Homo sapiens: one gene and its partners. The protein of the gene in region 7 interacts with the protein of the main gene of each other region in a biochemical or structural test. Each region holds a gene or a part of one and is shown on either strand. Other genes may lie near its edges.

Evidence for each region.
Region 1: the proteins of PREX1 (region 7) and ARHGEF16 interact in a test that uses a peptide from one of them, tested with the Homo sapiens proteins (one large-scale study listed by IntAct).
Region 2: the proteins of PREX1 (region 7) and RASSF6 interact in a test that uses a peptide from one of them, tested with the Homo sapiens proteins (one large-scale study listed by IntAct).
Region 3: the proteins of PREX1 (region 7) and SLCO1C1 interact in a test that uses a peptide from one of them, tested with the Homo sapiens proteins (one large-scale study listed by IntAct).
Region 4: the proteins of PREX1 (region 7) and DGKZ interact in a test that uses a peptide from one of them, tested with the Homo sapiens proteins (one large-scale study listed by IntAct).
Region 5: the proteins of PREX1 (region 7) and DGKK interact in a test that uses a peptide from one of them, tested with the Homo sapiens proteins (one large-scale study listed by IntAct).
Region 6: the proteins of PREX1 (region 7) and MAP2K2 interact in a test that uses a peptide from one of them, tested with the Homo sapiens proteins (one large-scale study listed by IntAct).

What each region holds. Positions count from the first base shown.
Region 1 is NC_000001.11:3,453,278-3,457,464, forward strand, and holds the start of ARHGEF16 (rho guanine nucleotide exchange factor 16), read left to right. Parts: upstream 1-1,387; 5' UTR 1,388-1,534; exon of another isoform or gene 1,535-1,551; intron 1,552-4,158; exon of another isoform or gene 4,159-4,187. UniProt on the Homo sapiens protein: Guanyl-nucleotide exchange factor of the RHOG GTPase stimulating the exchange of RHOG-associated GDP for GTP. May play a role in chemotactic cell migration by mediating the activation of RAC1 by EPHA2.
Region 2 is NC_000004.12:73,585,937-73,589,436, forward strand, and holds part of RASSF6 (ras association domain-containing protein 6), read right to left. Parts: intron 1,999-3,500; coding exon 1,904-1,998; intron 1-1,903.
Region 3 is NC_000012.12:20,736,832-20,740,331, forward strand, and holds part of SLCO1C1 (solute carrier organic anion transporter family member 1C1), read left to right. Parts: intron 1-275; coding exon 276-441; intron 442-3,352; coding exon 3,353-3,500. UniProt on the Homo sapiens protein: Mediates the Na(+)-independent high affinity transport of organic anions such as the thyroid hormones L-thyroxine (T4), L-thyroxine sulfate (T4S), and 3,3',5'-triiodo-L-thyronine (reverse T3, rT3) at the plasma membrane.
Region 4 is NC_000011.10:46,374,963-46,378,462, forward strand, and holds part of DGKZ (diacylglycerol kinase zeta), read left to right. Parts: coding exon 1-83; intron 84-469; coding exon 470-669; intron 670-888; coding exon 889-989; intron 990-1,103; coding exon 1,104-1,183; intron 1,184-1,365; coding exon 1,366-1,435; intron 1,436-1,439; exon of another isoform or gene 1,440-1,522; intron 1,523-1,561; coding exon 1,562-1,602; intron 1,603-2,110; coding exon 2,111-2,250; intron 2,251-3,235; coding exon 3,236-3,267; intron 3,268-3,494; coding exon 3,495-3,500. UniProt on the Homo sapiens protein: Diacylglycerol kinase that converts diacylglycerol/DAG into phosphatidic acid/phosphatidate/PA and regulates the respective levels of these two bioactive lipids.
Region 5 is NC_000023.11:50,364,909-50,367,367, reverse strand, and holds the end of DGKK (diacylglycerol kinase kappa), read left to right. Parts: 3' UTR 1-1,959; downstream 1,960-2,459. UniProt on the Homo sapiens protein: Diacylglycerol kinase that converts diacylglycerol/DAG into phosphatidic acid/phosphatidate/PA and regulates the respective levels of these two bioactive lipids.
Region 6 is NC_000019.10:4,117,623-4,121,122, reverse strand, and holds part of MAP2K2 (dual specificity mitogen-activated protein kinase kinase 2), read left to right. Parts: intron 1-3,493; coding exon 3,494-3,500. UniProt on the Homo sapiens protein: Catalyzes the concomitant phosphorylation of a threonine and a tyrosine residue in a Thr-Glu-Tyr sequence located in MAP kinases. Activates the ERK1 and ERK2 MAP kinases.
Region 7 is NC_000020.11:48,629,000-48,632,499, reverse strand, and holds part of PREX1 (phosphatidylinositol 3,4,5-trisphosphate-dependent Rac exchanger 1 protein), read left to right. Parts: coding exon 1-4; intron 5-108; coding exon 109-223; intron 224-1,705; coding exon 1,706-1,772; intron 1,773-2,878; coding exon 2,879-3,051; intron 3,052-3,500.

The DNA of each region.
Region 1 (4,187 bases), on a different chromosome or scaffold from region 7:
GCAGTACCCATCATGGACTCAGGAGGGCAGCAGCCACCTGCCTTTCCCAAGAGCTGCCTGGAAGTGGAACCTCCCCACAGGCGGCTCCAGGTGGAGGCTGCAGCCCACAGGGGTCAACTCTTAGCTCCTCCCTCATCCACCCTCCCTCCCAGGGGATGGATGGCCCACGGGACCCATCCCTGAGGCCAGCCTGTGCCCTGCCCAGATGGCACCTGACACCCAGGCAGCCCCAGCCACAGGGCAGACATTGGGGGACTAGTGGGTGGGGCGACCAGAGCAGGAGGGGCAGGGCAGGCCGCCCCTCTACCTATGACACCTGAGAAAATGCCAAGTGACAGCCCCAGAGCCTGTGGTGTCTCCTCAACCCGCAACGGGATCTCACGGCCGCCCAGGCCAGGGAGGCAGGTCCTGGGAGGAGGGTGGTCAGTGCCTCTGGCTGGCACACCGGTGCCCGGCCCACGACCCCAAGGCCTGGGGTCAGTGAGGGGACGCTGGTAGAAGCTGACCCAAAGCCCAGTGTGGATGTTCACATGGAGGCCTTTGGCAACAGGCCTTTCCTGAAAAGGGGATGATGGAGGCAGGTCAGAAGTGGGTCTGAGCCCTGGGACCTCAGGTCACATTCCTGAATGGCCAGGCCCAAGCTTGGGAGGCTTGGCTCAGCCCCCAGCCCCTCCCACAGCACCAGGTGGCCTGATTCCTGAACCCCCAGCTGGGGGGCTGCTGCAGCCTCTGCCCGGGGCCCTCCCTCACTTTCACACGGGTTCCCAGCAGGCGGAGCAAGGAAAGGCCAGGCTCGGAGTCCAGGCTCAGCCTTGTGCACGAGGGCGAGCGCCTTCCTTTCCAGGACTCGGTCCTTCTCTGTGAAATGGGGATGACCGCGACTCAACCACACCAAAAAGGTGGCCAGAGTGCTTTGCGCCCTCTTGGCTGTCTTTGGCCGCCTGGCTTCCAAGAATCCAGAGGGCCGGGCCTTTCTACAGCAAACATCGGTCCCCGCAGGGCTGGTCTCCTTCCCCGAAGGCTTCCTGGAGGAGGCAGTGGAGCGGGGCCTGGAAGGACAGTGACGCAGGAGGGAGCCGAGCCGCTCTGGCCCCACGCCTGGCAGGCGACTCCCGGGCCGGCCTCGAGGGGGCGTGGGCGCGGGGAGGGAAGGCGCAGGCACCGGGCGGCGGCGGCTCGGCGGGAATCGAGAGGCGCGATCCAGTCCGGGCGATCACGTGGGCTCCAGCCGGCCCAGGTGGGGCTGTGACCTGTGACGCAGGCGGCGCCGCCACAGGTGCCCGGGACGCGCCCCGCCCCCTCCCCGGCCCTCCCCGCCCGGGCCCTCGGACCCGGAGCAGCCCCGCCCGCCCAGCGCCCACCTGCGGGGCCGCAGCCGCCGCCCTCCAGCCAGACCGCGCAGGAAGCGGAGGAGGCGCCCCGGGCCGGACCGCGCTGCCGCAGGAGCGAAGCGGCTGCAGGACAGGACAGGACCCGGCGCTGGAAGCTGCACCGCCAGCGCGCCGCCCCTCCGTCCCTCCGCCCCGCGGCGCAGGTGAGCCTGGGGGACAGGTGAGCCGGGGGACAGGTGAGTCGGGGCTCGGGGGAGCCGGGTGGGGGGATTAGCCCGGGGGAGGCGCCGGGAACCCGGGGCGCTTCTCCTCCCCCTCGCTTTTCCCGCAAGCCCCGCCCCGGCAGCCGCAACAACTTCGCGACCCTCCTGGGGCTCCGCCGGGGCGGGAGAGGCGGGGCTCGCGGGCTGAGCCGGATGCGACTTTGGACCCGCCCCCCCACACACACCAGGCAGCCCCCTGCTTGCCCCCGCCCGCTCGCTCGCTGCCCTCTCTTGACCCCGAGTGGCCGCTTCCTCTTCCTAAAGGAAAACTTCCATGCAACCGGAACCTGGGTTCAGACTTGAGCGCCGAGGACTCTGGAAGCCCCAGGGAGTTTGAAAGAGCATGGGGTGGGGGGCGGAACAGAACGACCCTCCCGGGAGCTCTTTGGGGAATCTGACACCCAAACCTGCTTTGGCCCCAAAATTTCAGAAAAGCCCCGAGAAGGAAGAACCCCACACCCAAGACAAACCCAAACCATACGCCCCTCCCCCACCCTTGACCTTGGTGGGCGGTGGCAGGGAGGGACCTGCTTTGTCTCCCCTGAGAAGGGAGATGGGGAGGGGGAGGGGTGCGTCCCACCTACCAGGGAGCCGTGGCCGCTTGTCTTGGCCGCTCAGCCTCTTTCTGCGTCTGTGAAATGGGAACAGTATCCCTTTTGAGATTTGAGCAGGTGGGGGGACTGAGGGAGTGGCAGCGATGGCAGGTCTTGGTGACCTCTGCTTCTGACCTGAATCAAGGCCTGAATCTTCTCTGTGTCCTTGAGGGGAACAGTCTGTGCACCACCTAACATGGGGGCCTAGGGGGTGCGTGTGGGCCTGGCTGGGGGTCCAGCAAGAGGGTCCAGGTGCTGTGCCTGGCTGCAGGTCCTGACCCCTCCGTGGCATAGTTCCCAGGTGTGTGGGTTTCAGGCTCACATCCTGGCTCTTTGTGAACTAAGCAGCTCTTGGGGCCTCGGTTTCCTCATCCGTAAAATGGGACTAGTAGGAGTGTTGAGTTAGAAGATGTTGACCCACAAGTGTGCCAGGCAGACGTGGACCCTGCTGTGCGATGCCCACAGCCAGCAGAGGGGAACAGGGTGAGATGAAAGGTACTGTCCAGAGCAGGAGCCATGGGCTGAAGGTAGGCACTCCTCACCCACCCCAGTCTTGCTGGAAGGGAGGTGTCTTGGGGGCTTCCTGGAAGAAGTAAGTCACCTGGACCAAAGTCACCTGGAGGGTGGGATGGGCCCTCCCTCCACCTGGACACTGGGGAGAAACCCTTGTTGGGGGGCCTCCCTGAGGTCGCTGGCTCTTCGGGGGCCATCTCTGACCCACAGGACCACCCTATGTGGGAAGCACTTTCCACCTACACATGAGGAAACTGAGGCACAGAGGTGAAGCAGTGAGAAGCGGCGTGCCAGGGTCCCCACAGCTCACATGTGACGCGCAGGTCCCCATCCTGAGGATGGCCATCTGTGTTCACGTTGTGATCCAGGCGCAGGCGCTCCCCGCGAGTTTGGGTCTGAGTTTTAGTTTTGGTTTCCAGATGGATCTGGGCTGCTCCTGTCCTTAGCACAGGGGACCATCCGTCTGGAGCAGCGTCCTTATTTCTAGTGACTCCCTGGCTGAGGCCAGAACCCCCACTCCCCCCGGTCCCCATTTGGGGACAGCCATCCAGGTCAGGACAGGGCCTGGCCAGCAGTCCCACCCCCGCAGGCCACATTCCCTCTGCACCTGGTTTCCTTACCTGCCCGGGAAAATACCCACCTTCCAGAAGTTTGGGGAGGGGCAGAAGACAGTGGATGACAGGGCATTCAGAGGGCACTGTCTGTGTGTCTGTCCTACAGCGGGTGAACGGGTGGCAGGAGACCTGTCACCCACACGGGCACCTGTCAGAGGCAGGCTCTGATTCCCACCCTTTGGGGGAACCCCGTGAGTGGCAGCAGAGCCAGGGACAGCAGCTGGGTTTATGGGATGTCTCATTCAGAGCCGGAGCTGGGGAGTGACTGGAATGCACTTTGGGCTGAACCAGCTATGTCCAGGTGGGAGGGCCAGGTGCACTTCCCCGCCCCCACCGCGCAGGGTGGCTCTCTGCTTAGCTGCCTAGGATTTCCCTACCGCAGCCCTAGGGACCTTGATCCAGATAACAGGTCTCTCCAGCAGCCTTGCCAACCAGTAGCCAGGACTCCTGACTACCAGCAGTGTCCCCAGACGTTGGCAAATGTGCCCTGGGGGCCAAAACTGCCCCAGTGAAGGCCGCAGAGCCAAATCCCTGGCCACCTTGCAAACGGAGCTGGCTGATGTGTGCTGCATGATTTGCAAAAGCAAGTCCTCCCCCCGATTATGTGACTGAGTCCGAAGTTTGACGGGCAGAATTACCGGAGTACAAGGGCATCATTGTAGCTTGAGTTTGCCTTCACTGAGGTTGGATGGACAGGTGCTAGAGAGGCCGCGCCCCACTGGGCCGAGTGGGGTCAGCCGGACCTAGAGGCCAGGGTAGGAGGGACAGAAATGCCTGAGGGTGGGACCACATGAAGCTGGAGGCCTGTGCAACATCCTAACCGGAGGGGCAGCAAACTTGGGGCAATTGGGTCCTGGTGGCCGTGACAGCAGC
Region 2 (3,500 bases), on a different chromosome or scaffold from region 7:
CTCGTCATTTAGCATTAGGTATATCTCCTAATGCTATCCCTCCCCCCTCCCCCCACCCCATTATATGTTGGCCCAAGTTCTTTGGAGCTTTTCCTAAAAAATAAACACTGGGCCTTAGTTTTCCTATAAAACTACAGAAAGCTCTTTGAGAAGCTATTTATATGGTATGTGGAGCATTGAAAGATTTTGTTCCCATCTTTTATAAAAGCAAAAGGAATAGTATGCTTTGGACTAGTCCTACTATTTGTAATATATCACATTATGTTCTTTTTAGAACATTCCAGATGTATGATATGAATGACTTTTTCACTTAGTTGTCCACTATCCTATTATTTCTTCTCATTGAGTCATGTATATTTAACAATGATTCATAATTGATTAGTCAAAATTTGGTTACTGAATTATTACAATTTCTATAGCAGATTTTAGAGTATAAAATTATAGTGTAGCGTTGAACAACTCTAGTATCTATTGAGTAGGCAGAAGGTGTTTAAATGGAATTGAATTGAGCTACAATGTGTTACTAGCCTAAGATGCAGAAGATTCAAACCTGCCTTCTGCCCCCCTTTCTGCTTGTATACAATTGATAGTACCTTTTTCAATTTCCTCTCCTATGCATATTCATATGTAAGAATAAGACCATGTGGTGGCATTTGTGTTTTATTTTACTTTAGGATTTTAAAAAATTTTCTACTGTAATTAGAACATTATCAAATAGGCATGAGATATTTCTTCCTTCTCTAGCACTGCTGTTTAAATACAAATATATTTTTATGATGTCTTTGATGCCAAGATACTGGGATTTCCTTGGGTTTCATATATATTTCTAAAAGATAATTGGAAGGGCCGATATTTAACAAGATGTAAAGATCCCATGGCATAAAGAGAAAAGGGAACCCTGGAAGGAACATCATGTTTGTCACAGGATCTGGGTTCCTGTGGAATAGCAGACGAGGCAGAATTGAGAATGATTTGAAAAAAAAAAAAAGAGAACAAACATTGCAAGTTGCTGGTAGGCTTATGAAGTTAATGCTAGTGGGATACCTTTGTTCACACTGAACTGACTTCGTAAATCACAGCCCCATTTCAGGCACATGAACCCTGTCCACCACCCCTCATTCTAGCTTCAGTCATCAGCATCCACTACTCTTTGAATCTTATGTGTTTATGAGAATTACATGAAAAAATTCATATAAAGTACAAAATATTATGCCTGATACTTACCAGAGTCTCATCAGATTACAGCTATCAATATCACTATTATTACTCTCACATCATCACCATTATGATTATAACTACTAATGTCACACATCCCTGGAGCTGGCATTTCCCATTGGTTTGCCAAGTTCAGTATGGATCCATTTGATCCTTAAGTATATTTCTCTTTTAAAAAGATCTCTGAAATAACTCTATCAAATATAAAATTGACTCCAGCATATCTGTGTCTTTCTGAGAAGTAATGTTATTGACATATCTATTAACTAACTAAAACGTTCAACTTCTAAAAAGATACAGAATTAGGTCTGATGGGCTTGGCCTAACATATAAAGCTATTGGGAATAATAAATGACTCTAATCTTTGGGGAAGATATTTAACAATTTTATGAATACAAACTTTATTAAAACTATTAGCTCTCCCTATTCTAATAAATCTAAGTGACATAATATAATTTTTTTAAGAATTATATTTTTATATACCAAAGTAAGGTTCTTAAACATCATACAAGCACTATAGTGACTTAAGTTACTATGCTCCTAAGATATTTAAAAATATATATACATATAAAACAAGAGTTTATTGTGTAGTAGTATGAAAAAGGTTAGATTTCAGAGAAACATATGGAGTCATACTTTACACTAATTAAAAATTAAGTCTCCCAATCAATAAGATTTTGATACTGACCTTCCTGGGAATTCCTTTTTTCAGACATAGGAATCTGGGTCCTGTCCAGCTCACTAATACGATAGAGATCGTCAAATTCCCCCCAGCGTGTCATTCTGAGAAGTAATAAATCTTGTAAGTACATCAGTTCCATTTATATTGAAGCCTATGATGGTTTCCAGATTTACAATATTAATATAGTAATACTGTGGGCCTCTGTAGGTGGATATATTGTCCAAAGTTATAACAATTTTATGATATTATTAAAATTATATTCATACCAAAGTGGTCAATATATGTTTTAAATGCTTCCTGTACTTTTATAGAGCATATCTTTTTGACGTAATAATTCAGTTACATACTGAAACACAAGTTATATAGATTCTGTAAAACATATGTCCAAATTGAATTAGTAGAAACCAAGATGATCAATTGTTATAAAGATATTTCACAATACTCTTAGGGGAGCTTGGGTATAAAAGTGTTCTTTATACATTCTGTCAATATGTATTGTACCTTTTGCATTCAAAACATTGTTAGGTAGAGTGGCTCTAAAATAATAAAATATAGTGCCTATCGTTTAAGGCCCTTGACTACCATGAAGAATGTAGTTTACGAAGGAGGAAAATGTATGAGAATTTTGCCAGAAAATTATGATTTCATAAAGAAACTAGCAATTTTAAGTGCATTCTAGTGCTCAGAATACATGAAACCTGACAAATGTTTATTTTTACGGCAGGTCAAAACTCAATTTTATTTTATTTATCTGGTCTTAAACAAGTTTCTTATCCCCTCTGTGCCTGTGTCCTCATCTGTAAAATAAAAATGATAATAGCATGAGGTAGGATAGGGTTGTTTTGAGGATTAAAAGAGTTAATTTGTATAAAATTCTTGAATCAGTGCCCTGAAAATAGTAAGCATTCAATATAGATTAACAATAATTATAATTATCCTCATCTCCATTGTCATCATCATCATCATCATCATCATCATCATCATCACCAGCATCTGTATCTATTTCATTCCTGATGGGCCAGGAACCATTAGGGACCCAAGGTGTTCCTGGATCTCTCTAGGCAAATGGTTGCTATTATCTAAGAATCTCTTCAGTAATGTCTGTTTTTCTTATGACTAAAATATATTCACTTATAGGGAATTTATGGCATTGACTCTGCCCGAATTTCATTGGTGGCAACAAAAAATATTTATTAATACTAATGGTAGTGAATATGAAGAAAGTCATCCCTTATCCTCTTTACTTTTGAATTCTTTTGAAGCGTGTTTTATGGCTACTATATCATTTGAGTCTCACAATAGCCTTATGATGTAGAGAAGGTAATCCTAATATATTTGTTAATTTTCCAGCAAGCTGTACTATTCAGAATACAGCCAATCAAAACAAATGTCATAAAGCCCAACTACAGGTAATAACTTTAACTCAAAGGAAAACTACCAGGTCCTGACTCAGAATCTAATTAGTCTTATGGCAGATAAAATTACCCATTTCCCCAAATCTATAGCAGCTTAATAATCAGAAAGTGGCAGACATAATTATCGTAGAAGGGGGGTTAGGAATGGAAAAGTCAATACCAATGAAAAACAGAAACTAAAAATGCAA
Region 3 (3,500 bases), on a different chromosome or scaffold from region 7:
GAAGATCCTAGAGGCTGTAGACTGAAAGCTATAAGCTAAGAACTGGACATCATGTGAATTTGTAAACCTCTAAAGATAACTTTCAAGAGAAAGCTGTTTATTAGTAAACTCACATTTCATGACCAGAAGCTGCCATTTCTGATGACAACTGTGTTTCTAAAAGGCAAATTTTGTTCATAGTATCATTTATATCACTCAAGAACATTGATTTTTTGAAAATATTCGGGTGCTACCTGCTAAGAGGTAATATTTTATATTGTTATATTTCTTTTCAGAACCAAACCTGTCTCTTATCATGAACGAGCTCTCTTTTCAGATTGCAACTCAAGATGCAAATGTTCAGAGACAAAATGGGAACCCATGTGCGGTGAAAATGGAATCACATATGTATCAGCTTGTCTTGCTGGTTGTCAAACCTCCAACAGGAGTGGAAAAAATATTGTAAGAAATCACCTCTCAAGTATATGGCGATGGTCCTGTTACAATATAAACAACAAAACTCTATGGGGGCTCACAGCAGACCACTACTAGTAGGAGGCTTGCCTCTTACCTCTGCCTGGTCCTTTTTTGTAGAAAAAGAAAATGTTATAACCATTCCTAGTGGTACTGGAGTTGCTGAAAAAATTAGGGTGAGAATTAGAGTCATCAAATAGGGTGGAAGAGATTTTGTAATTATGTAGTCTATTTCTCTCATTTTGCTTATAAGAAGTGTTAGCCCTGAATTAGAATGTCTGTCGTATGATCATCATAATAAGATATGCTTTCAGATCCATGTCCCCTGGCCCTAAGATCCGTGGTCCTTGGAGGTTTTAGGGAATGAACAAATAGAGGCCAGTATTAGGAGGCTTAGCTCCAGAGATTCTAGACCTTGGGGTCAGGGATCTGATAATGAGGAGGTTGATGGTTCTAGGACAACTTTGGAAAATCAAGCCAATTTGTATAATAATGAAAGGGCAGGTGGGCTGGAATGGAGGGTTTCCATAGGGCAGAAGAGGGAGATGAGGTAGGAAATATAGGTAGGAATCTATTTTAGTCAGTCCAGGCTGCTATAACAAATATACCATAGAATGGGTGGCTTAAACAACAAACATTTATTTCTCATAGTTCTGGATGATGGGAAGTCCAAGATCAAGGTGCCAGCAGAACTGGTTCCTAGTGAGGACCCACTTTCTGGTTTGCAGATGACCATCTTCACCTTTTATCCTCACATGGCAGAGAGCAGACAGGGAGAGACAGGTCTCCTGTCTCTTCTTATAAGGGCACTAAAATCACATTCATGAGGGCTACACCCTCATGAACTAATTACCTCCTAAATGCTTTACTCCAAATACCATCACATTGAAGGTTAGGATTTCAACATATGAATTTTGGGAAAATATTCAATCCTTAACAGAAAGCAATTGTGAAGGATGTAAAGTACTTCAATCATTAACAGATTCACCCTTCTCAGCACACCTTTCCATTCCTGTCCCAAACAGACTCTTCCTTATCCTTGCTCTCTGAGACTGCTTTCTATTTGTGACTGATTAAATTTGCCTTTATTTGACAATCCTAGAGGGCAGAAAATTAGACCACCCATGTATCTCATTTATTTATATATCCTTATCAACTGGATATGAATACTTAGGCTGTATATCCACAGATATACAGTTAAGTTTGTTAATTTACTCTGTTCATTGTATTATTATTTTGACTTATTTACAGCAGAAAGGATTGGTTTCTAGCAACAATGAATAAGACTACCTACTCATCTGAAACATGTTTTCATGCTTCTCTTTTTTTCTTTTCTTTGCTTTCTTCCTTTGTTATTTTTCTTTCAGCTACTGTTATTTTTGCTCACAGCTGCATGAAGGTTTTTTTGTAATGAGAGCTACCATTTATAAAAGACATTACAAGGAAAGGTTAAAGATTGGTGTTAAAAGAACAAAATTACATTTAAATCTCATGGTCCTGAAATAATTTGCATTATTTTCAGTATTTTCTTCATGTGAGAACTGAGGCACTGAGATACAAAGGACTTGCTTAACTCATTTATCTAGTGAGCGACCAGAATTAAGATTCAAAGGTTTCAACTTGACATTACAAAAAATCTATATTGCCACTCTTTCTAGAAAAGTAAATGCCAGCTTTATTTATGGTCTAAAAACTCACAAACTCTTTTGTGATTAAAAATGATAACATTATATATATGCATTCATAAATAAAATTTACAGAAATAAACTATTGAGGGGTTATACAAATTGTCTCTCTTCAGTCAAAATTTAGTTGAGTTTTATGCACCAGAATTATTTTTTTCTCATAGCCACTGTAAATTATGTCATATCCTCAAATTGTTCCCATTTACTTAACTAAGTTTTATCAAATGCCTAAAATGAGAGTCTATTCCATTCCCCAGTTGCATAATAACAAAGCAGCAGTTTCTGCTTTCATGGAGGTTACATTCTGTTGGGAAAGTATGTTTTAAAAATAAGTAAATACAGGATATCCTGATAGGTAGTAAGAAGCACTGTAAAAAAAAGACATACATTAGAATAAGAAGATGGAGAGATGGGAGTTGTTTTTTTTTGTTTTTTTTTTTAAATGGATAGTCATAGAAGGTCTCTATTAAAACCTCTAAACGGAGAACTAAAGTATGGACGCCAGCTGTGTAATCACCGAAGAGAAGAGCTGCCCGGGCAGAGAAAATAGCAGGGCCGTGAGGCATGGATGAACTTGCCAGGTTTGAGGGGATGTTTGGAAAGGGCAAAATGGGGCCTTTGCAAGGGTCATGTGTGTGGCTTACACAGAAGAAGAGAGGGAAGATCACTGAATGGTGAGATTAGAGTGGCATCCAGGTGCTACATGATGGAGAAAGTGTAAACTGTTATAAGGATGTGGGGTTTCATGCAAGTATGATGAGAAACCACTGGCAGGTTGAGGGTAGTGATGCAGTCTGACTGCCATGTTTAAAGGTTCACTTTACTTACTGGGTGGAAAGCAGATACTAGCTAGATAAGATTGGAAACAAGTTGCGCATAAAGGGAGCATTGTAACAATCTAGGCAAGAAATCATGGTTACTTAGCATTGGAAGTGGTAGCGAAGGAGGTAAGGTATGGTTAGATTAGGCAGGATTTGCTGGGAGATTGTTGTACAGGATTAGTAGTTTGTAGATAGTCATCTGCTCTTTAGATAATGAAATGTTGTATCTATATAGATTTTGCTTTGCTCAATATACTGTAATACAAAAAAATAAAAGAATATTTCCTCATTGTTTACATAATGCATGGCTACGGTAAACATTTTTAACATAACTGTCTTTAACTTTATTTAAATGTTACTGAAATAATTGGACTTTTCCCTATCGTGTTACAGATATTTTACAACTGCACTTGTGTGGGAATTGCAGCTTCTAAATCCGGAAATTCCTCAGGCATAGTGGGAAGATGTCAGAAAGACAATGGATGTCCCCAAATGTTTCTGTATTTCCTTGTAATTTCAGTCATCACATCCTATACTTTAT
Region 4 (3,500 bases), on a different chromosome or scaffold from region 7:
ACCCTGGGGAGCACCACGACTTTGAGCCCCAGCGGCATGACGACGGCTACCTCGAGGTCATTGGCTTCACCATGACGTCGTTGGTGAGTGGGCCCTGGGCCCATGGTGCCTGGGAGCACAGCCCAAAGGTGGAAGGGGTCACCCATACTCACCTCCATGGGCCACGGCGGCCTAGTTCACCCTCACCTCCCTTCTTTGTCTCATTCCTCTGGCTTGAGAGCGGCACCTACCCCCTCTCCTCACTATGCCTCGGGATACCTTCACTCCCCACTCTGACTGGAGCGTCACCCTCATTGCCTCTGTCCCTTCCCTTTCCTACCTGGGGTCTCAGCCTCCCCTCTGCCCTCTGGCCAGGGGTCACTCTCACCTTTGTTCTCTGGCTAGAGTTTCTGCTTCGGAAGGAGCAGAGTCTGGGACCCCCCTGCCCCCAGCCCTGGTGCCATCTGACCCAAGCTTCCTGTGCCCACAGGCCGCGCTGCAGGTGGGCGGACACGGCGAGCGGCTGACGCAGTGTCGCGAGGTGGTGCTCACCACATCCAAGGCCATCCCGGTGCAGGTGGATGGCGAGCCCTGCAAGCTTGCAGCCTCACGCATCCGCATCGCCCTGCGCAACCAGGCCACCATGGTGCAGAAGGCCAAGCGGCGGAGCGCCGCCCCCCTGCACAGCGAGTACGTCCCACCCTGCCACGTGCCCTGGGTGCCAAGGCCAGACCCTGCCCTCTCTGGGCCTTGATTTCCCCATCTGTAAAAGGGGCTGACTGTCCCTCTGCCCCAGGGGTGTTGGGAGTGGAGCGGGACCTTCTCTCGGCAAGTGGTTTGGTGCCAGGCCGAGGGTGGCACCAAGGCAGGGCCCTTGCTGAGCCCCCGCTTGCCGGCCCTGCCCGACAGCCAGCAGCCGGTGCCAGAGCAGTTGCGCATCCAGGTGAGTCGCGTCAGCATGCACGACTATGAGGCCCTGCACTACGACAAGGAGCAGCTCAAGGAGGCCTGTGAGTGCGGTGGGGCGGCCTGGCAGGGTGGCCAGGAGGGGCTGAAGCAGCCGGGGCCCCCTTGGGCAGGGCTGTGGGGTGCAGCCAGCTGCTGACAGGTGCTCTGTTCTCCAGCTGTGCCGCTGGGCACTGTGGTGGTCCCAGGAGACAGTGACCTAGAGCTCTGCCGTGCCCACATTGAGAGACTCCAGCAGGTAAGGGGTGGGGGCTTCCCCAGGTGCCCACCGAGAGGGTGGTGGGAAGTGAGGCCAGGCCTCTTCCTCCCGCAGCCAGCTCGCCCTGCGGAGCCTCCTCTGTGCTGGTTCCCCCTACTCCAAGTTCCCTTCCCTCCCTGGCCCCCACTCTATCCCAGCCTGGCCTTTGCTTCTCTCAACAGGAGCCCGATGGTGCTGGAGCCAAGTCCCCGACATGCCAGAAACTGTCCCCCAAGTGGTGCTTCCTGGACGGTGAGTCTACTCCCAGGGTGCCAAGCTGTTTCGTGTTCCCTCCCTAGGGGATCCCAGGTAGGGGCAGCAGAGGACCTGGGCCTGGACATGGCACTCCCTGATCCTCAGCTGCCCTCTCTCCCACAGCCACCACTGCCAGCCGCTTCTACAGGATCGACCGAGCCCAGGTGAGCGATTGCAGGCCTGCTCCAGCCACAGCTGCTTCCGGGCCCCAGGGTCGCCTCTCCTGGGACGCCTTCCCTGTTAGCTCCCCCGATGGGCTCACCTCTGTCCTCATGCCTCTGAGAGCTTTTACTATTGCCTGTGTGCATGGACAGCGTGCGGCCCTGCCCTCCACACTGGAGAGTATAGGGCGGTGCCAGCCAGAAAGGCAGTGGGGTACCTACCAAAGGCTTGCTGGGTGGGTAGGAGGGCCTGGAAGCCCAGAGCCATCCAGGGAGACACAGAAGCAAAGGCATTCTGGTCAGGCGCCAGCTCACCTGGTAAAGTCTGGGCAGTCGGAGGAGGTGTCAGGAATGGGAAGGAGTGGGAGAGGGACAGGCAGGGCCCCTTGCCTGGCCACCTCCTTTCAGTGTTTGTGCTCATGGCAGAGGCTTCTCCAGGTCTACCAGCCTTGCTGCCCCTCGGCCCCCACCGTCAGGTGCCCTGACCTCCCGCCCTGACCTCCCCCCACAGGAGCACCTCAACTATGTGACTGAGATCGCACAGGATGAGATTTATATCCTGGACCCTGAGCTGCTGGGGGCATCGGCCCGGCCTGACCTCCCAACCCCCACTTCCCCTCTCCCCACCTCACCCTGCTCACCCACGCCCCGGTGAGTCCTGGTGTCCCGTCCCTCCAGCCCCTGGCTTTCAGCCCCACCTGTAAGCCGATGACTTCTGAATCCCTGCTTCTAGCCCCTCCACCAGTTAACTAAATGGTGTCAACCTGAACCTGGCCAAAGCCCACCTGACGGCCTTCAGCCCTGTGGTTCTGTGGGGAAGCGGCCTCACGTCCACCCTGGTTCCCTCCCTGACTTCTCCCTCCTCTGGACCTCATCCTTCAGCCAGTCCTGGCAGCCCCCGGACCCACCACCTGAGCACTCCTCCCCACCCCTACTGCCACCAGCCCTTCCCGGCTGCCACGCCCTGGCCCCCAGCTCTTATATCCCTGTGGCCATTCGTGCCCTCGAACCCCCATCTCCATACCACGGTCAACTAAAAATGCAGAGCATACCAGGCCACTCCCCAACCTAGAAGCTTCTTTCTCAGCAGCCCTTTGGACGTGGATTCTCCCCAGGCCCCCCGTCATTGCACTGGGCTCCCAGCCCCCTCCCTGAGTTCACCTCCATGGTCCTGCCCCACTCTCTTCTCTTGGTTCTTTGAGGCATCAGGTGTTTGCCACCACTGGACTTCTGTCATCGCTGCCTCCAACTCTTCCCCCATCTTTCCGGAGCTCCCCCACCCCCATCCCCTTCGAATCTCAGCTTGGCTGTTTCCTCCTTGGAGAGATCACTCCCAGGACCCCCTCTGCAGGGGTGCCACATCACCTGTTCTGAATTCTTAAGAGCACCCCTGCTCTCAGAACTCCTTATTTATTTGACTTGTTTGTATCCCTGAACTAGAATGTAAGCTCCATGAGGGCAAGGCCTTCCTCTGTCTCGTTTCCCTGCTGTATCCCCAGTGCCTGGAATAGTGCTTGGTGTGTAGCAGGCACTCAATAAACTGTGGAAAGGATGAAGATGCCCCCAGTTGGGGTTGGGGAGGGCGACCAGCTGGCCTGTGCCGTAGCCGGTCACAGCACATCATGCTCTGTTGCAGGTCACTGCAAGGGGATGCTGCACCCCCTCAAGGTGAGGCCTCTCCCTCTGGGGCCCCTCCTTTCTGCCTGGTTGGGGGCAGGAGGCTCAGTGGGGTGGGGATAGGGCCCAGACACAGCCTTACACAAACACAGCCTTTGAGCTTCACGCACCAACGGAGCCCTGGGCACACATGCCTGGCCGGCACAGTCCTGTCCACTGAGGCACCAACCCAAGCCCAGGCCTCCGACTGCAGAGTAACAGGCAGGTATTCCGTGCAGGTGAAG
Region 5 (2,459 bases), on a different chromosome or scaffold from region 7:
AAATGCCTTCTCCCAGTCAGGGCAAATCTAATCAAACCCCAATGCCCAGAGAGGTTCTCTCTGGTCAGCCTTGCATCTTCACCCCACCCTTGACTCATACCTTTAGTTAACTGTCCCTTCCCACTTATCAAGAGAAAACTGGCCTCTCCCTACTTCTCAGACAAACTTAGCGTGCTCAATTACCTGATTCAGTCCAATGGCTGGTTCATTGAGGTGCACAATTCAGATTCCAAGCACTGGTTCTCAACTCTGGAACTCCACCAGCCTAACCCACTTAAACCAGCCACCTGTGCTCCACCTCCGCAGGGGTGAGGAGAAAAATATTAACAAGGGGATAGTCCCCAAATGTCTGATTGCTGTGCCAAACTAAGTCCTAGCTCTACAACTAGAGAAGAAAGTCAATGGAAAAAGATGACAGAAAACATTTAAAACTTATTTAAGCATCAGAATGTGTTAGCTTGTTGTACATATTTGAGTAGTGAGTGTGCTGTTGTTGTGTCTTTGACTTTCTCTGTTATTAGTCTTTCTTCCCAGGAGGAGGTATTAGATGAAATCAGCAAGCTCACTATTGCAGCCTGACTTGGCTCCTCTATGGCTGCATGCATTGACACCTGCACACACACTCACAGAGTGGGAACCAAGTTGCATTTTCTTCAGAAGAGCTTTTTCCGAAGGGGAAAATGTCCAAATGAGCAAATTTAGGACTACAGAAGGAAGTCCTGGGAGAAGATAGCTTTATCTTGGCAGTGACTAAGCAGGGCTGTGTCTTATAATTATTTTTATCACTGATGATAGTAAACTGTAATAAGACTCCATCTCTTGTGCTTACTTTGCTGCAATAATTAGGTCTTTGTGCACAGTGATGCTGCTGTTGCTCTGTTGTGCCATGTGGATTCCCTTTCACCTACCCTGTCCTCCCACTCTGAGTCAGAATGATATTGACTGAAACCACTAGTATTTGGGGCTAGAGTCAGCTCATGGAGCACAGTTGATAGATGACAAGGCCCAGGAGCAGGTGTGGCTTGCTCAATCCCTCAGTTACCTCCTAAATTGCTAAGTTACCAGTAGTTTCCCAAAAAGGAAGATAGCTTGCCAAGCACCTGTTCTTGCATATGCTCACTTGGAAACAAAGCAAGAAGTGATGCCTCAAGGGAGTTGTCTTAGCTCTGGGAGTGTGAGCTCCTTTAAGGACTTTGTTAACCACTTGCAGTAATTAATACAATTGCTTGGGTGGTGGGACCAAACACCAAATATCCATCTCAATTATGTTCAGACATCATTAAGACCCAAAGCTCTAGGGTTTGGTTGTATCTTTGGTAGCACTTTCTGACGAATTGGTTGGGTAGGCAATTCCTGGCCAGAAGAATAGTGGAGAAGAAAAAGCCGATACATTTGAACTGCCACCAACTGCTTCTGGTGTCAATACTATAGGAGGTAAACAGTTATGGGTCCCCTTCTCCAGAAAGGCCCTGTGCTGTGTCCATAAGAGCAGGTTAAGAATAAGAAAGAGATTTTTTACCTTAATAAAACTGGGCCAGAAGAAACAGTCAGGGTCAACGTCATCTTCCCTCAGGACACAAATGGAAGAATTTTTCTTTCACGAGAGGTGGAAAATAATACCAAAGCAACCAAACCCATTAGCACCATTCCATCCTATATGAGACCTTGCTTGGCTATATGATTTGTGGAATTGCATTTGTCTATTTGTCAGTGAATCTGTAACCCATTGTTGTTTTCTGCTCTGTGTTTTTTATTTCCTCAGAGGCCCCTGCAAATAAGCAGCAGGGCCAGGGGCTGGTTGGGGGAGGAAGCTGGGGTATTTACATGGTAACAGGAAAAAGCAGAAAAAAAAGATCCACAAAGTGTGCCTATTCCTCTCCCCCCGCCAAATGGAACACCAGTCCTCAATGTTAATAAAGTATTGCTTCTTTAAATATTTTAATAAATGGATAAACATAATCAATGCCGTGCCTCATCATTTACCTCAGCATAAAGGGAGTTGAATGGTGGTGGAAATGGGGGGCAGGTGGGCTTGGGTGGCCATCCAAGCTCTAAACAAGCCACATGCAGGTCACGATGGCAGGTGAGGGAGGACAGCAACAGCGCAAACCAAGAATCTCCATCAGGGATGATCATGATACTAAAGGGGTTGCCAAGAAGAACTCTAAAACCTAGCTGCGACTCTGGATGATCCTGTGGGGAAATACATGCCACTGTAATTGCTCCAGGAGCTAATTCTCTGCAGGATACAAATCTCAGTGGAATGCATTAGTTACTGGGGAGGCAAAGTGGGATAGAGTGTAGTCCAGACTGTTAAATAAATGCATAAGGCACCTTGAAATCTGACAATACAATCTATTCCCCCCAATGCATACATCATACACTCCTCTCCTCTCCAGAGGGGTTTGAGGTGGGAAGCCATATTCTGTTCAAATGCAAAATCAGTTCGGCTGAGCATT
Region 6 (3,500 bases), on a different chromosome or scaffold from region 7:
GTGGGGTCATGCCAGGGTGATCTCTGCACTCCCGTTCTGCAGGCCGAGGCAGGGCAGGGCGATCCCCGGGGCCCTTGGCTGGGGTCCGGGTGCCGTGCCTGCGGTGTGACCCCTCAAGAACCAGGTGTCAGGGACTGTGGCATGTCTGGTGGCCTCTCCCGCTTGGGGGTCGGCCTTCTGTGACCCAGATGAAGACTCTTGATGCCAATGTGTGCAAGTCAACACGGGCACAGCCAGACACGGGGACCCGTTCCTCATTCTCTGCACAGAACTCGCCCTTCACATTTCTCTTCCGTGTGGGGTTTGATTCCCATCTCTTGAAGGATTCCCCCAGGAGAGGAAGCTGGCTGTAGGGACGCCAAGGTTTTGTTTTGTTTTGTTTAATAACCACAGTTGGGTTGCCAGTAAATTTAAGATGGATTAGTCAGCTGACTCCAGAATGCATTTTCAATGTTTTGAGCAGTACTTGAGACCTTCCAAGTCTGCCATCAGAAGTGTTCATTCATGGCTGGGTGTGGTGGCTCACGCCTGTAATCCCAGCCCTTTGGGAGGCCAAGGTGGGTGGATTACTTGAGGCCCAGAGTTCAAGACCAACCTGGCCAACATGGCAAAACCCCGTCTCTATTAAAAATGCCAAAAAAATTAGCTGAGCGCGGTGATGCACACCTGTAATCCCAGCTACTCAGGAGGCTGAGGCAGGAGAATCGCTTGGACCCAGGAGGCAGAGGTTGCAGTGAGCTGAGATCGTGCCAGTGCACTCCAGCCTGGGCGACAGAGCAAGACTGTCTCAAAAAAAATAAATATTCATTTATTCATTGATGTTATTCATTCATTCATTCATGTTCCCCTCCTTACCTTCTGTCCCACTCCCAGGGTCTCGCCATTTCTGCTTCTTCTGGGTCCTTGTTCAGCAGCTCCTCAGTGAGCACCTACTAGGGCCCTGTTTCCCCTCATGGGGGACACTAAGATGAGCAGGGGTTGTCCTGACCTCAGGCAGGTGTTGTTACCTCGGGCAGGTTCCCCCACCCCTGTGAGTCTGTTCCCTCCTGCCTGGGCCTCCGGGGACGATGGTGAGAATGGAATGAGATGGTGTTTGTCCAGCCCAGGAAGCGGTGCCCAGGCCCCTGCCTTCCAGCGAGCTCTTTGCAGCACCAGCTCCAGCGCCATCGCCTCGGTTCTGGCCTGTGTGCCCCGTGGCTTACGCCACTTCCAGCTGTAGGCGAACAGTGGTCGAACTTTGGGATTGGAAATTTCCAGATGGAAGGAGCAGTCCACGCCTTCATTCCCTGCTTCAGTCCCCTCTCTGGCTGTCCACCTTGGCTTTAGCTCCTTCCTGAATTGGGACCTCTGGAGGTGGCCTGTTCTTCCAGAGAGCCATTTAAAGCTGCACTGCCTGGTTGAGTAGCCCCTGGCTACAGGCAACACATAAAACAAGAATTGCCCAAACCCACGAGAGCATAGGCGCAATAATGCCATTGTAGATTTCAAAGGCTTAAGACGGAAACAGTGTGAAACATTCATTCATTTTTCATACTGGTTGTACGTTGAAAATGATAACATTTTTGATGGGTTAAATCAAATGTGTTATTAAAATTAATTTCAGCCAGGTGCAGTGGCTTATGTCTGTAATCCCAGCACTTTGGGAGGCCAAGGTGGGCAGGTGGCTTGAACCCAGGAATTCAAGAGCAGCCTGACCAACATGGCGAAACCTTGTCTCTACTAAAAATACAAAAATTAGCTGGGCGTGGTGGCGGGTGCTTGTAATTCCAGCTACTTCGGAGGCTGAGGCAGGAGAATTGCTTGAACCCGTGAGGTGGAGGTTGCAGTGAGCCAAGATCACACCACTGTACTCCAGCCTGGGCGACAGAATGAGACTTTGTCTCAGAAAATAATAATAATAATAAAAATTAATTAATTAAAAAGAGCCAGACATGATGGCTCACACCTGTGATCCTAGCTACTAGGAAGGCTGAGGTGGGAGGATCACTTGAGGACAGGAGTTGGAGGCTGCAGTGAGCTGTAATCGTGCCGCTGCACCCCAGCTTGGGAGGTAGAGCAGGACCCTGTCTCTAAATAAATGAAGTGAGTTCACCTGTTCTTTTTAAACATGGGTACTAGAAGATTTTAATTTGTGCGCATGGTTTACATTCCATTGCTTGTGCACAGCAATGGGTTCCTGTGTGCATTGCGCTTAGTTGTCTGTTACTCCAGGATCTGGTTCTGAGTCAAGGCATTTGTGAAAATAGCTTACTGTCGAAATTTCCTCTGAAGATTCCTTGAATCACCCAATAAAGTGCAATGTACTTGCTTGTTTAAATTGTTAGAAATTTTTTATTGTGTAGAAACAAGGTCTTGCTCTGTCACCCAGGCTGGAGTACATTGTCACGATCATGGCTCACTGCAGTCTCGACCTCCTGGGCTCAGCCTCCTGAGTAACTAGAACTACAGGCATGAGCCACTGTGCTCGGCTATAGGTCTCACTTTGTTGCCCAGGCTGGTCATGCTTATTTTTTGTTTTTTTTGTTTTTTGGTTTGTTTTGTTTTGAGACAGAGCCTCCCTCTGCTGCCCAGGCTGGAGTGCAGTGGCAAGATCTCAGTTCACTGCAATCTCCCCCTCCCGGGTTCAAGCAGTTCTCGTGTCTCAGCCTCCCAAGTAGCTGGGACTGCAAACGTGCACCACCGTGCCTACCTGATGCAGCTTTTGTGCTGAGCCTTCTGCCCTCTACTCTTGGTTCTCATTCTGTGCTCTGAGGCTGCTCAGAACGCTTGTTCCTCTATCTCCTGCAAAGACAGACATCTTGGCCCGGGCTCCGTTCACCCGATCCCAGCTTCCTCGTCTCCTCCCGACATGGTCCGGAGCTCGTGCGTTAGGAAGGAGGTCTCCCGGCCGCGTGCAATGGCTCACGCCTATAATCCCAGCACTTTGAGAGGCTGAGGCAGGCGGATCACTCAATGTCAGGAGTTGGAGACCAGCCTGACCAACATGGCGAAACCCTGTCTCTACTGAAAATACAAAAATTAGCCGGGCATGGTGGCGGGAGCCTGTAATCTCAGCTACTTGGGAGGCTGAGGCAGGAGAATCTCTTGAACCCGGGAGGCCAAGGTTGCAGGGAGCCGAGATCGCGCCACTGCATTCCAGCCTGAGCAACAGAGGGAGACTCCGTCTCAAAAAAAAAAGAAAAAGAAAAGAAAAAGACGGAGGCTTCCTGGGTCCTTTGAGCTGCAGCTTATCCTTGAGGTCCTGAGGTCTGCTAGACTTGTTGAGACAGGATCAAGGCAGCGTCCTCAGTTCCCGGGGAGCCGCCCTGGATTCTGGTCATTGGTGTGTCTATGGGGGTACACAGCATGGATCCTTTCCTTCTACACCATGAACCCCTCAAGTGCAGGAATCCAGTCTGTGTCCTCCTGGGGGCCGATGCACCACGGCCACATAGCAAACGGCCAGATGGAGTCTCCCTAGGTAGCTAACCCCTACCCTGGGGGGTCTCTGCAGGGCAAAC
Region 7 (3,500 bases):
AAAGGTGAGCTTCAGGCCTGGGGCAGGGAGGACCACGGGGGCCGGGCCAAGGCCACCAAGCACACCGGCTCCCAACCGCCTGCCCGCCCCCGACATCTCCCCTCCCAGTGCTGGAGAACGTGGAGGGGCTGCCTTCTCCAGGCAGCCAGGCCGCGGAGGATTTGCAGCAGGACATCAACGCGCAGTCCCTGGAGAAAGTTCAGCAGTATTACCGCAAACTCAGGTATCCGCCTGGGGTCCCCGTTGGGGGCAGGAGTCAGGAAACCTCCACGTGGAGTGGGCATTAGCATGGAAGGTGCCAGGCGGACCCCCAGCATGGGCAGTGGGCCGCACACCCTTTCTTGAGCACCTTCTGTGTGACAGCACTCTTGCCTGCGTGAGATTCTCAATGGCAGCAGGCCATGGATCCCACTTTACAGAGGAGGCGACTGAGGCCCAGAAAGTGTACACACTTGCCCAAGGTCACACAGCCAGGCAGTGGCTGAGCTTTGAACTGGGGTCTGTTTGGTTTCAAAGTGGGTCTTTCCTACTGAGAGGAGCCGGCTTCATTCTACAGAGGGTGGGAGCTAGGACAGGGGACCTTGGGACTCTTGGGCCTGTGAGTGAGGGGTGCGGCTCCCAGGGTCTTGGCTGCTCAGAAGAGAACCCCAGGGGAGGAGGGGTGAGAGCAGGAGCCAGGTATCACCAGGAGGAACCACAGGTTCTGGGAGGCAGCTTCTAAGTTCTGCAGCTCCCACTCCTACCACCCTCCCCCACAGCCCTTCCTGCGTGTGTCTCACCACCTCCCTCTGTGACAGAGGCAGGCCGAGAATTAAGACCCCAGGGAGATGAGTACGGGTCTGGGCTTCATCATTTGGAAATGAGAGAATGAGGCTTCATTCGTTTGCTCAGAGAAAGCATCCAGCCCAGTTACTGAAAACTGGCATCTGTTTGGATTGATCAGGGCTGTCATCAGTCTGTTCTGCGCCATCTGTGGAATACTCTGAGTCCTGCCTGTGTGATGATTCATTCATCCCTTCATTCACACATGTTGAGGCCTTCTGCGGGCCGGGCACTGTTCCGGGTGCTTGTTTGGGAATGTGCAGTGAGCAAAACAAAGTCCTGTTCTTCATGGAGCATATATTCTAGAGCAGGGGTTGTCAAAATCTGGCCCTCCTTGTCTCCCTGTTTTGTAAATAAAGTTTTATTAGCACACCTGCATTCACTCATTTTCACATCCTCTGTGGCTGCTTTTGTGCTGCAATGGCAGAGCTGAGTGGCCGCGATCGAGACTTTCCAGTGCACAAAGCATAAAATGTTTACCGTTGGGCTCTTCACAGAAGAAGTTCGCTGACCCCTGTTCTGGAGGGGGAGACGAACAGTAAACCAGTAAGCCCAGAGCCATGAGATGCCAAGTGGTGAGAAGTGCTCAGAAGAGAGAAAAAGCAGGACCAGGGCCTGGGGAGCAGAGGGCTGGGGGCTGCTGTGGACGGGCAGGCAGGGAGGGGTGGCATTGGAGGAGTGCTCAGGAGGCCCCTCTTTCCCCCCCGGCTGTTGTAGGAACAGGTGCCTGCGGGTGAGCACAGCCTGCAGGCGCTCTCAGGGATTTCATTCTGAGAGTCGGCAGAGGGCGGAGTCACGGTGGCTGCAGGAGTTGAGACCTGGGTAGGGGCAGGAGGATGGTGGGTGTGGTGGCCCCCGCCTCATTCCCATCTTTCTCTCGCAGGGCATTTTACCTGGAGCGGTCTAACCTGCCCACGGATGCCAGCACCACGGCGGTAAAGATAGACCAGGTATGTCCACGTGCCCTCCTGCTGCAGGGAGCTTGGGCAGGGTGGGGCGCTCAGGAGTCAGGACTCAGCAGACAGGCCCAGGGTTGTGCCCCAGCAGATTCTAGCCCCAAAGCCCTTGAGACCCTGCAGTCTCTCCTCCTCCAGGAAGTCTCCCATGATAGCTTCCTCCCCATTCCCAACTTCCTGGGATGATTTATTTTCGCTGGCAGCCGCCCATCTCTGCCACTCCAATCCGCCTTATTAACCACAGCATTTCTCTGAGGCTGGAGCCTGGACCTCATGACAGATGTAACCTGTATGGTATTCTTTTTGTTTATGTGTTTCAAATTTGCTGTCAACCTTTAGAAATCAAAAGATTTCCCATAAAAACAGAGGCTTCCAGCTTTTCTGGAGGAATGGGAAGATCTGGCTGTTGGGGACCATGTTGCCACATGTCCCCGTTGCTCCGAGCTGGGAGCAGCTCCCTCTGAGGGGCCTCGATAGTTCGGCTCCTTGGGCTCCTTGCCTCTGACCCTCAACACATGTCTTTTGGCCTCCTGGTTTTCTAGGGTCAGGCAGGCCTTGAATGTGCTGATGATTTTGGGGTGCTGTCTTGGGGCTGTGAGCTGGGGGCTCCGGGAGGAGGGTGGGCACAGCCGTTTGGGACTTTCCACTCTGGCTGGCAGAATGTCCCCGCAGCACAGCTCGTTAGTGAACCACCCCTTGCACCTCCACGTGGGGGTCAGGGAATGCTGGGGGCAGAAGGGAAGGCTTTTTCTGGAGAGGGGGCGCTTGTGTTGGTCTTGACAGGCTGGGAGAGGGCACTTTCTTCAGGCTTCACTGGGGACACACCTGGGCAGGTGAAGAGAATTAGGTTGGAAGGTTAGACCTGAAATATATGGTCAACACTGACTGCCAGCTTGTAGGGCAGTGGGGAGCCACAGAGGGTTCTTGAGCAGAGGTTATAGAAGATTGAATTGCATTGTTATCCCCAGAGGGGTGAGCTGGGAGGCAGCTGCAGGAACAGCTGGATTAGAAGGATATGGTGGGGGAGGAGGGCCAGATGGGGGCTGAGGGGCTGTGAGGACCTCCTCCAACTCCCCGGTTATGTGTGGTACCCCCTACAGCTGATCCGCCCCATCAATGCCCTGGATGAGCTCTGCCGCCTCATGAAGTCCTTTGTCCACCCAAAGCCTGGTGCTGCTGGGAGTGTGGGCGCCGGCCTCATCCCCATCTCCTCGGAGCTCTGCTACCGCCTGGGGGCCTGCCAGATGGTCATGTGTGGCACAGGCATGCAGAGGTGAGCTGCTGCCCGCTGAGTCGGGGTGTGGGGAGGGGCTGGCCTAGCTTCTGGTCAGTTTGGGGTCCTGTGGCAAGGAGGCAGGAAGGCTGGGTTCCAATCCTGGTTCTGCCATTGCCTGTAGAGCCTTGGCTCTGTCTGCACCTCAGTTTGTCTGTCTGTGAAACGGAATGGCAGCAGCAGGTGGTCCTAGCAGGGCTGTGGAGCCACCTGCTTCTCTAACGCCGTAGTGAGTGTGTGTGAGAGCTGTGCCCTGTAGTTCCGCCGGAAGCCTCCTTCAACATTAACAATAGCAATGGCTGGTTTATGGGGCCTGCTGACCTCACTGGAGGCTCCCCTGCCTCCTACCTCCATCCTTTGTCCCCAGTGCTCATCCCAGGGAGGAAGAGGTCACCTTCTCCAGAGTGCTTCCTGACCTTCCGTTACAAACTGTGCCCACTCTCCCCACT